3 linked regions of the Homo sapiens genome follow. The protein of the gene in region 1 interacts with the protein of each later gene in a pairwise test. Each region holds a gene or a part of one and is shown in the gene's direction. Other genes may lie near its edges. The genes, in order: BNIP3L, KLHL23 and HTR2B.

Region 1 (3,656 bases):
GGAATTGGTGGTGACTATGGGATGGTGGTAGCCACTGGGGCTGCCTCAAATGGAAAGGAAAGGGTTCTAAGTATTTATAAAAGAAAATTCTAGTGTATAACTGAGCATCTTCTATTTACCAGCACTTGATACTACTAAATCGTCACAGCACCCCGGTGTTATTATTATCTCTGTTTACAAATGAGGAAGCTGAAGCTCAGGTCACACAGGTAGACAGGAAGTGATGGGGTCAGATTCCCAGCTAGGTCTGCCTTGGAGCTTTCCTTCTTGTGAGGGTGATGTTCAGTTCACTCTGGAACTGGTGTAGCCATCGCCACATTTAGAGTGCATTTTAGAGTTTGAGCCAGTTTTGATGATTTTACTTCAACTTACTGATGGAACTCCTTGTTCATCCCTGGAACTCTCTAACACTTCTGCTGGGAGTTTAGAGGGATGGCCACACCAAGCTGCTTGGGTACATTTTCTAAAACAAAATTTATTGTAAGAAATGGAAATTATGAACAAAATATACCACTATCTCTTTTTGCTGTGAAGTTAAGTTTATTGGCTACTGTTAACAATTTATTTACTTACTTACTTACTATTCTTTTGTAGAGACAGGGTCTTGCCATGTTCCCCAGGCTGGTGTCAAACTCCTGGATTCAAGCAATCCTGGTGCCTCAGCCTCCCAAAGTGCTGGGATTACATGTGTGAGCCACTGTACCTGGCCTCAACTCTTGTTAAAATTAAAGCACCTTAATACGTTTAGCAAACTCATCAGACCAATAAATATTTTCAAGATGTATGCAGAATTACCAGTGGCACATCCCCTTTTTCTGTGGCTCCACCCCTTCAACTTTTTGTCCAAGAAAACTTTTCGTGTTTGCCTGTAGCTGATGTGCAGTTGTTTCTGCTCCCAAATCAACAGGGTTTAATGAAAACCCTAGAAAGTAGAAACCCGTGGGAGAGAAAAGAAAAAAGACAAGTTCACAAGGTATGTTTAGTGTATAAAAAAGGAGAAGGACTAGAAAGCCTGAGATACAAAGGAAATGAAGAAACTAATCAGTGAGATAGAGATAAAGCTTTTTTCTGAATTTTTAGCATTATTACCTGATTTAGTTAACCAGCTGCATTAATTTTATGCTCCTGATTTGTGCACAAATTGAAATTTTTGCTATTGGATTTAGGTTCCCTCTCTAGGAGTTTCTCAGTTGTTTGCACTAAGTAGGATATAGTTGCTAACTTACTTAGATGACCTTTTATGAAATTTGTAGGTGATATATTTATTTCATTTCTGGAGCAGATACAGCTGAGCAGCTTAGGTAGACTATGAAGAAAGTGTGTGTGTATATATACACCAACTAAAATGTTAAAGGTAAATAGCCTAAAAGTAGCAATTTTTTTTTGAAAAGCAACCTGAGTTTTCAGTAGAGTGTTATTATAAACCAAGCTTTACCCAGAGAGAAATTGACTGAAAAACACGTTTTCTGAGATGTTTTAGAGTTTGAGCTGTTTCTCAGTTGATGGCATGAGCTATTTCAGGAACAGAACTATATAGATCTTTAGACTTTTATTACTTCTTATTTATTTTCTTCAGAATACTTTTACATTTGGTTTGAGGAGAGTCAGAATTCTTATCTGGATTCACCATGTTCACATCTGTGTGCACATGACAGATTTCAGTTCTGCTGTGGTTAACTTATCTGACTTGTCCAACAGGTTCCTGGGTGGAGCTACCCATGAACAGCAGCAATGGCAATGATAATGGCAATGGGAAAAATGGGGGGCTGGAACACGTACCATCCTCATCCTCCATCCACAATGGAGACATGGAGAAGATTCTTTTGGATGCACAACATGAATCAGGACAGAGTAGTTCCAGAGGCAGTTCTCACTGTGACAGGTAAGTGAGACCCATGTTTTGGTGGAATTCAGGAAACAGGTGGGTTACAGGGCTCATTCACTCTAGGAAAAATCTGTTTGCTTAAATCTTCACTTAGCAAAATATGCCTCCTGATATATTGTAGTATAATATATATTGCACAGATATATATTGTGTTTATATGAGACAGCTAATTGACAGGTGCTTCAGTGCCCACTGTTTTTCCCCAGATTGTCATTTTTCTTACCCAGATTATATTGTTTCTAGCAGTTTATCAGTTTAAAATTCAGTGGCATAAATGCTAATTTATAGAATTAATCTGACTTTCCCCCATTTTCCTTTGTGTCCCTGTGTTACAGATCACAGACTGTTCTTGAATTAGTTACCTCTGTATATATGTGTCTTCCCTTCTAGATGTTGACGTTGCAAAGGGCAGGGGCCATGTTTAATTTTTATTACCTTCACAGTAATGGTGCTGGCACGTAGTAGACACTCAGTAAATGTTTGATTCATAGGAACTGCAGGTTGCTTCACGTTATAGCAATATTTGCACAGTTGGAAGCACCAACCAAGGTCTGTAAAGATAGTTTTGAAGTCTCCTCTGCTTTCTCAGGGGATGTTTTGTTTCAGACCTCATTTTTCTATATTTGAGCTGAAGAAACTAATTACATGGATTAAGGACTGCTTATGGTGAAAGAGTAAGAATACAACGAGATATGTGTGTGGAATGAAACCAGGTCATTATTTTTTAGTATAAACTTTTCTGTTTTTTTTTTTTTTTTTCAGAAGGGCTAGATATTAAATGACATTTAAGAAATTCTTGTTTCAGTGACAGCTACACTGTTAGCATTATGGGGCACTGGATGACCTTCTGGGTGGTTGTTAACTGATGTTAACCATTTAGAAAATGCAAATGCACGGGAAGCAGATTAAGGAAATGTAAACAGTGACTATTTTTAGGAATGCAGTATGGATATGTTTCTTCTTAACATTTTTGTATTTTGTAAAAATTGTGTATATTGCACATATTATTACTTATCAGAAGAAGTGAAAAAAAGGAGAAATGAGTTAAATCATGTCCAACTTCCTGAGTGGCTTATGATCCACTAATGTTGCCAAGGCAGCGGGGGACTGGTTTGTTGGCTCTGTGGCACACTGTGCACCCCCGCCACCCCCGTGTCATCCCTGACTTGTCCCTGTGCTTCTTAGAGCCTGGGATGGCTCTTGTCATAAGCGGAACCAGAGCAGATGGCTCTCTTCTGAACAGCTTGCCCTTGATTCCAGTAGCTACAGCATTAGTCTGTCTTTCCGAATGAAGATTTATATTTATATTATGGAACTTGCTGATGGGTTTCTCAAGTTTTCTGCTTGTTATGGCCTGTCAACAAGGCTTTCACTCTGCGTTCAGGTGTGTGGGCCTTGATCATTGATACCATGGTGTCCATGAGCCTGTTGTTCACATGGTGCTGTCAATGAGCAGAGAACAGTCACCTGCTTACCTGTCTGTTCATCTTACTTCATTTATGGTGCAGTTTTACGTGTGACTGAATATGCCTTCACCCTCCTATGATCATGTTTAAGTTTAGGTTGCCATGAGGAGGCATGGCAAATGCTTTTGAACACTTTCGTACCCCTCATCTTATGTCTCTCCAGGCCCTAGATTAGTGGTCATCTTTCAGAGAATGGCTAGAACTCGAGTCTTCTGGGATAGCCTACTAACACGCTTTACCATTGAGGAGTGTCTTCAAAACTCACATCATCTGAATTGCCATGCGTCTCTATATGTGAAAAGTAA
Region 2 (3,656 bases), on another chromosome or scaffold:
TGTGCTCCGTTTCACCACAGTCCTTCCAATTCTCCTCACGTCACTGACCTAGGGGGCCTGTGCCGTTGTTTTTCTTGCTCCCAGCTGGCTTTGCTCAGCTAGTCTGTTAAATCCTTAAGCTCTTGAAGGCTGTGCATCTGCATCCACTGAATTATAGCAAGGTTTGTTTCTTAAGGATTTTAGCAGTACCTCCTGAGGAATTAAAATGTCATCCTTGAGTTGACTTCATAGAGATACATTGCTTACACTGAGAAGAAATGACTACTATTATTTTTTAAAGATAATATAAGTATTATATTTTATCTTAACCCCTTTAATGGGGTAGTTTGTGTAATTGGAAAACATGGGACTATAGTTGCATTGAATTCAAGGTGACATTTATTGAGACCCTACATTGGAAAAGGTAGGATTCTGATAATTATGTAAGATGATTAAGTGTTAGTCTTTACTGCCGTAGGAGCTCAGAATCCAGGAGCAAATATACATACATAATGGAAATACAGGACAGTCTCTGCTAAGTTCTGTAAAAACAAGTGCTATTGAAATTGAGAATAAAAAGAGTGTAAGTCTAATTAAGGGAAATCTGACTATCTTAGAATGCTTCCAACGGTAGGTGGTTATGAGCTGGGCCTTAAAGAATGGCCCCAAATAAGGAAGGTAGTTTTTGAGGAAGGGTTTTTCTGGCAAGAAGTCAGCCCAGTGGAGGAAGGTGGAAAGGAAAGTTTCAGGTGTATTCCATTACCTGGGAGCAGACATGAATGAATGGAATGTAAGAGGGTAGAATGGGAGATCGGATGGGAGAGTTCAGTTGGAGAGCATGTCATGGAGAGCTTTGAATGGCAGTCTGGGTAATTTTTTTTTTTTTTGAGATGGAGTCTTGCTGTGTTGCCCAGGCTGGAGTGCAGTGGTGTGATCTCGGCTAACCGCAACATCCGCATCCCAGGTTCAAGGTATTCTCCTGCCTCAACGTCCCAAGTAGCTGAGATTACAGGCGCTGCTACTTTGCCCGGCTAATTTTTCATATTTTTAGTAGAGATGGGGTTTCACCGTGTTAGCCAGGCTGGTCTCAAACTCCTGACCTTGTGATTCACCTTCCTCAGCCTCCCAAAGTGCTGGGATTACAGGCTTGAGCCACCACAACCAGCTCAGTCTGGGTAATTTTTAAAATGCAGAATCATAAAGGTTTTCGAGCAAGAGAATGATGTGTGATCAGCTCTAGGTTTTTGTTTTTTGTTTTTTTTTTTTTAAAGACAGTCTCGCTCTGTTGCTTAGGCTGGAGTGCAGTGGCACAATCTTGGGTTCAGCGATTCTTGTGTCTCAGCCTCCCAGGTAGCTGGGATTACAGGCATGCACCACCACGCCTGGCTAATTTTTGTATTTTTTTTTAGTAGAGACGGGGTTTCACTATGTTGGCCAGGCTGGTCTTGAACTCCTGGCCTAAAGTCATCCACCCGCCTCAGCCTCCCAAAGCACTGGGCCACTGCACCTGGCCCAGCTCTGGTTTTAAGAAGAGAACTCTTGGCTGGGCGCGGTGGCTCACGCCTGTAATCCCTGCACTTTGGGAGGCCAAGGTGGGCGGATCATGAGGTCAGGAGATCGAGACCATCCTGGCTAACATGGTGAAACCCCATCTCTACTAAAAATACAAAAAAATTAGCTGGGCATGGTGGCGGGCACCTGTAGTCCTAGCTACTCGGGAGGCTGAGCCAGGAGAATGGTGTGAACCCGGGAGGCAGAGCTTGCAGTGAGCTGAAGATCGTGCCCCTGCACTCCAGCCTGGGTGACAGAGTGAGACTCCGTCTCAAAAAAAAAAAAAAAAAAAAAAAAAAGGAAGAGAACTCCTTTTAGGTAGATTGGGAGAAAGACAGCAAGGGGATCTACTAACACTATTGTGTTTAACCAAGGGAGAAATGCTGAAAGCCTGAAGAAGTGGTAGGAGTAGAAAAGAGGGGCCGATGTGAGGAATGTCATAGATTCAACAGCTGATTGCTTCCTTGGCTGACAGCATACAGGAGATGAAGGAGAGAAAGGAGTTGACAGTCGTCTCAGGGTCTCTGGCCGGTTGTCTGAGAGAATGAGGTATACTGAAGGAGAAGCTGACAGGAAGGGAGAAGAGGGGAGATGATGAGCTCGATTTTATAGTTTAGAGCAAAGGAATCATTGGATAACCCAAAAGAGCTGTCCAGCAGGCAAAGGGAAATGTGGGTTTGCAGCTGAGAAGGAGGGAGGTAGCTGAATGTAGAGATCTGGGGATTGTTTGCTTGGATGGTGGCTCTGGGTATGGGGATGAATAAGATGCCTTGGTAGGGTGGGACCAGCAATACAGCTATGGGCAGAATCCTAGGAAACGGGCAGAGTTGAGGGATAAGCTGAGGAACAAGAGGGTGTGAAGAGCCGAGAGGAAGCAGTATGTGATAAAGGAGGACCTGTGGAGAGTTGTGTGAAGTGGGGAGAGAACTTTCCTGGCCCTGCCATTTATTTACCTGCCTTGCCATCGGCAAGTAGACTAAGCTCTTGGGCCTTACCTTCCAGTGAAATCAGAAAGTTAGACTACATAAACTTTACAGGCTCTTCAATGAGAAAAGATCTTAGGAAAAAAAATTGAAATCAATTCAAATGGATATTGTGGTTTTCTCTGAATCCCTCTAGCTGTTTGTTCATATCACTCATCTAACACTGAATACAGACTGCTGTGTGTTGATGTTTTATACTTCTGTGTAAACTTTTGAGCCGTGACAGATGGTGTCACTCCCATTCTTGATTATTCATTTGTTCACTCATTCATGTCTAACATATCTGCTGTGTGCATCCTACATGCTGCTATATACTCAGTGCTAGGAGCACAGTGAGCAAGGCACAGTCCCAGAGCCTCAGTGGCTTAGAGGGGTTAACTAACAAGAAAAAACGCAATTACAGCTCAGGAAGAAAAAGTTCCTATCCACAACAATAGAACATGTGTTGTATTTGAGTAAAAGAGAAAAAATGATTAGGAATCACTTTACTTAAATATTTTTACTGCTATAGGAAGACAGATGGCTTTCTTAACATATGAATCAAAAATTGGGGTGTTTTGATAAACTTCAAGTAATTTAAGAAAAGCCTAGTGAGTGATGTTGAATCACTTTTACCAACTGATAAAATATTTGAACTATCATTTTCACAATAACCATTAGTTGAATGATTCATATAATTGATATAAGCAGTGTTTCACAAGTACTTGAAACAAGTAAATCCTATAAAAATTCAACATATAAATAACTGGAAAGTAAAAAATGAGTTTTTAACAAGTAGGATAATTATTTTCTTGGATGTCAGTAACGAGAAAAATATGTGGAAATGAAGCAAAAATGCAATCTTCTAAGACTTTCCTTAGCTGTCAAAACCTAGGGAGGGCCAGGCACGGTGGCTCACGCCTGTAATCTCAGTGCATTATTTGAGTCCAGGAGTTCAAGACTAGCACCTGGGCAACATGGCAAAACCCCATCTCTATTAAAAATACAAAAATTAGCCAGGCATGGTGGTGCGCACCCGTAATCTCAGCTACAGTGCACACCTGTAATCTTGGCTACTTGGGTGGCTGAAGCATAAGAATCACTTGAACCCGGGAAGCAGAGGTTGCAGTGAGCCGAGATTGCGCCACTGCACTCCAGCCTGGG
Region 3 (3,656 bases), on another chromosome or scaffold:
GCAGTAATGAGTAAAGTTCTACTGCTTTAATTAGACTTTCTAATAATTAACAGTCTTTCTATCTCCCTGTTTTATAAATTTGTAATCTTTTAAATAATCTAATGCTGCATGAAACCATGAAAAATAATTAAGAAATCTTACTATAATAGAGAACATAACCCTAATTCTGAATAAAGCTTAAAAGAAAGTATTATGTAGAAATATATATGCATATTTGATAAATACTGTACAGGCATATGATTCTAGCTCTCATCTCCATGTGCATAATAGTAGCTTAAGATGTAAAATCATACTCTTCAAACTGTGCTTTGCTAGGCACACAGAAAATGTCAAAATGCTTATTTCAGACTACCATAAAATTTAATACGTCATTCAATACATGATATTGAAAGAATTATGCAGAAGTGAATTTTAGCTTTAAAATCTTTGAGTCCATAAATATCAAACATCTATTATATGCAAAGTACCATGGTAGATACTTAAATTATCAGCTAAATAGTTAAGGAATCTTAAAAGGCAAAGTACCATAGAATTAAAGTGAGCTAACAAACAAAATACAAAAACAGGTAACAAAGATTTACCTGTTTAATAGATTCCATGTATTCTATAGAAAAATAGGTATCCAGCAGCTGAAAACTTTAAGTGTATATTTAAAATGCTGGTACCCAACATATCCTTAGCAATACAAGTTAGCAGAAAACCCAACATATGTTAACATAAAATATGTGAAATGTCTTCATATTTATGTCTTAAATAATTGATAGACATTTTAATATTATTTCATTCTTCCAAATGTTTATTAACTTTAAATTTATTTTTATTTATTTATTTTAATAGAGATGGAGTCTGGCAATGTTGCCTGGGCTGGCCTCAAACTCCTGGGTTCAAGTGATCCTCTGCCTTCAGCCTCTTAAGTAGCTAGGATTACAGGCACATTCCACCATGCCTGGCTCATGTTTGTTAATTTCTAATTACAAAATAAAATATTTTATAGCCCCAAACACTTTTACTATCAGAAATAAGTTGTATAGTGGGGTTTGTAGATTTTTAAAAAATGAACAAATCTGTGAACTACTATCTAATACATTATTGCATTATTTAAAGCATAATTCAATTTCTATGAAAAAATGTAGGAAAAAAACACATGTTGCCCTCTAACAAACTTCAAAGGATGAATTCATAAATTGGGAACTGCATGTATTACAAATGGAAACCTGACTTCAAATACCAAGATATTTTTATAACCTTTTGCAAGTTAATAAACACAAAGATTTTTCTAAACTAATGCATTTATAAGAACTTCTGATAACTTTAAAAGGCAGAATTAGACTTTACACTCTTATTGTAGTGTTAATCTTTAGGACTTCTAACGTTTGTACAAACAAGCGTTCTTGGTTCTATGATAAAAGATTAACTATCACTATGAGCAATAATTTTAGCTATCGCAGGGGAATTCAATGAAAGTAACACAAAAACTATACTAGCTCGTAGTCTAATAAAATGAAATTTTAAAAATAAGAGCAGTAAAATATAAAAGTGGACCTTCTGTCCTTATACTGAGAGATATTTTATTCAACCACTGATCTGTATAATATTTAACAATATACGGTTTGAATTCATATTTTCCCAAGATTATGACAACTCAGGCACAACATTGTCTTTCAAATGAGTTGTGCTAGGTCAATTTTTCTGCCACTTCTTCCTATCTGGGAGCACTGGACTTGATCTTTACAGTTGTAGTTTTTTATTGTCTTGTCCATAATTCCTAAAATCCATGATCACAAATCAACAGCTTATAACACAAGGCTTGAAAATACCTACGTTAGAAATACTTGAGCAAGAAAACAACACCTTATGCTGATATAAAAAAGACAGGATGTTCACCATTTAAGAGCTTCTCTGAATCTTTGTTTCATTTTATAAGTGATTTAAAAAGTAACAGGGGAGGCTGGGCACGGTGGCTCATGCCTGTAACCCCAGCACTTTAGGAGGCTGAAACGGATGGATCACCTGAGGTCAGGAGTTCGAGACCAGCCTGGCCAAGATGGCGAAACCCTGTCCCTACTAAAAATACAAAAATTAGCTGGGCATGGTGGTACGCGCCTGTAGTCCCAGCTACTCGGGAGACTGAGGCAGGAGAATAGCTTGAACCCGGAAGACAGAGTTGCAGTGAGCCGAGATGGTGCCACTGCACTCCAGCCTGGGTGACGGGGTGAGGCTCTGTCTCAGGGAAAAAAAAAAAAAAAAGTAACACGGGAAGATATGGCATCTGGCCATCCATTGGGTGTTATTGGTTTATTTATAAGTTTTTTTTTTTTTTTTTTTTTTGAGACGGAGTCTCGTTCTGTTGCCCAGACTGCAGGGCAGTGGCATGATCTCAGTTCACTGCAACCTCCACCCACAGGTTCAAACGATTCTCCTGCCTCAGCCTCCCGAGTAGCTGGGACTACAGGCGCAGGCCACCACACCTGGCTAAGTTTTGTATTTTTAGTAGAGATGGGGTTTTGCCACTTTGGCCAGGCTGGTCTTGAACTCCTGACCTCAGGTGATCCACCTGCCTCGGCCTCCCAAAGTGTTGGGATTACAGACATGAGCCACCAAACCTGGCTATAACTTAAGTTTCAATTGATGCCTCATGATCTATAAGTTCAAACAGTATCCGTGGTATAGCTGAAAGAGTATATAAAATGGCTGAAAGATGGCTGTTTGAAGCAAGACATCCCAGGGTCTGAATCCTGGTTCTCCCGTGTTGGATCAGGCAAGTCACTTATTATTTCAGAGTTCAATCACTTATTATTTCAGAGCTCAATCACCTTGTCAAGCAGGGCCCAGCATCTTATAAGCACTAATAGTAACTGGTAGAGTACTGCATGCAAATTAAATATGATTTAGTTGAGATGCAAGTCTAATCAGAGATGAAACAAATGTATAGCAGTAAGAGAAAAATGGCAGTTATTCATTTATGCAGTAAAATGTTAGCCTACCCAATTCTGAAATGGAGGAGAAAAGCAATGAATTAAAGGCACTTCTTTTTGTAAAGTGGAAATTTTAAAAACCAGGAAAAAATTCTGTAAGCATTAAAATGCTTAAAACATTTAAAACACTATCATATTAGACACTGAACCCCAGGATAACTCATATGCTCAAATGTAGTGAAAAAAGTAAAAAACAAAACAGAAACTTTTAAACAATAATTTGAACTGAACTATGTCTTTCTTTTCTGGAAGATAAAGACAGAAGCATTAGAATTTCTGAGATAAATGTATATTTGAAAATTATGTTCTTTTTGGACATAAGAAGTATTTATGATTTGTCCTGCTGCAATAAGTTCATGAACTGAGTACCTCTGTAAACTATAGGAACAGCCCACTTGGAATGCCTTTAAAAATAGTCTTTTACATCCTCCAAAGGGAAACATTTTATGTCCCAGATTTATGGACTGATGCTAATTATTTTCCGGACAAATAGTGTAACCTGACTTCCCAAACTAAAAAGCTGCCCAAAGGTTAAGCAGGTTTCAGATAAAATAAGTCTGCCTCATCAAGATACGGGGTTTCTAGTAAAACTCCTCAGGTTTTTGTACTAATTCAAAAGAAAGCAAAAACAAACAAAAAAATACCCAAACCAACAAAAAACCCAGGCATGCAATGCATACA

What was found.
Region 2: the proteins of BNIP3L (region 1) and KLHL23 interact in a two-hybrid assay, tested with the Homo sapiens proteins (one large-scale study listed by BioGRID and IntAct).
Region 3: the proteins of BNIP3L (region 1) and HTR2B interact in a two-hybrid assay, tested with the Homo sapiens proteins (one large-scale study listed by BioGRID and IntAct).

What each region holds. Positions count from the first base shown.
Region 1 is NC_000008.11:26,389,545-26,393,200, forward strand, and holds part of BNIP3L (BCL2/adenovirus E1B 19 kDa protein-interacting protein 3-like), read left to right. Parts: intron 1-868; exon of another isoform or gene 869-973; intron 974-1,698; coding exon 1,699-1,882; intron 1,883-3,656.
Region 2 is NC_000002.12:169,743,711-169,747,366, forward strand, and holds part of KLHL23 (kelch-like protein 23), read left to right. Parts: intron 1-3,656.
Region 3 is NC_000002.12:231,118,542-231,122,197, reverse strand, and holds part of HTR2B (5-hydroxytryptamine receptor 2B), read left to right. Parts: intron 1-3,656. UniProt on the Homo sapiens protein: G-protein coupled receptor for 5-hydroxytryptamine (serotonin). Also functions as a receptor for various ergot alkaloid derivatives and psychoactive substances.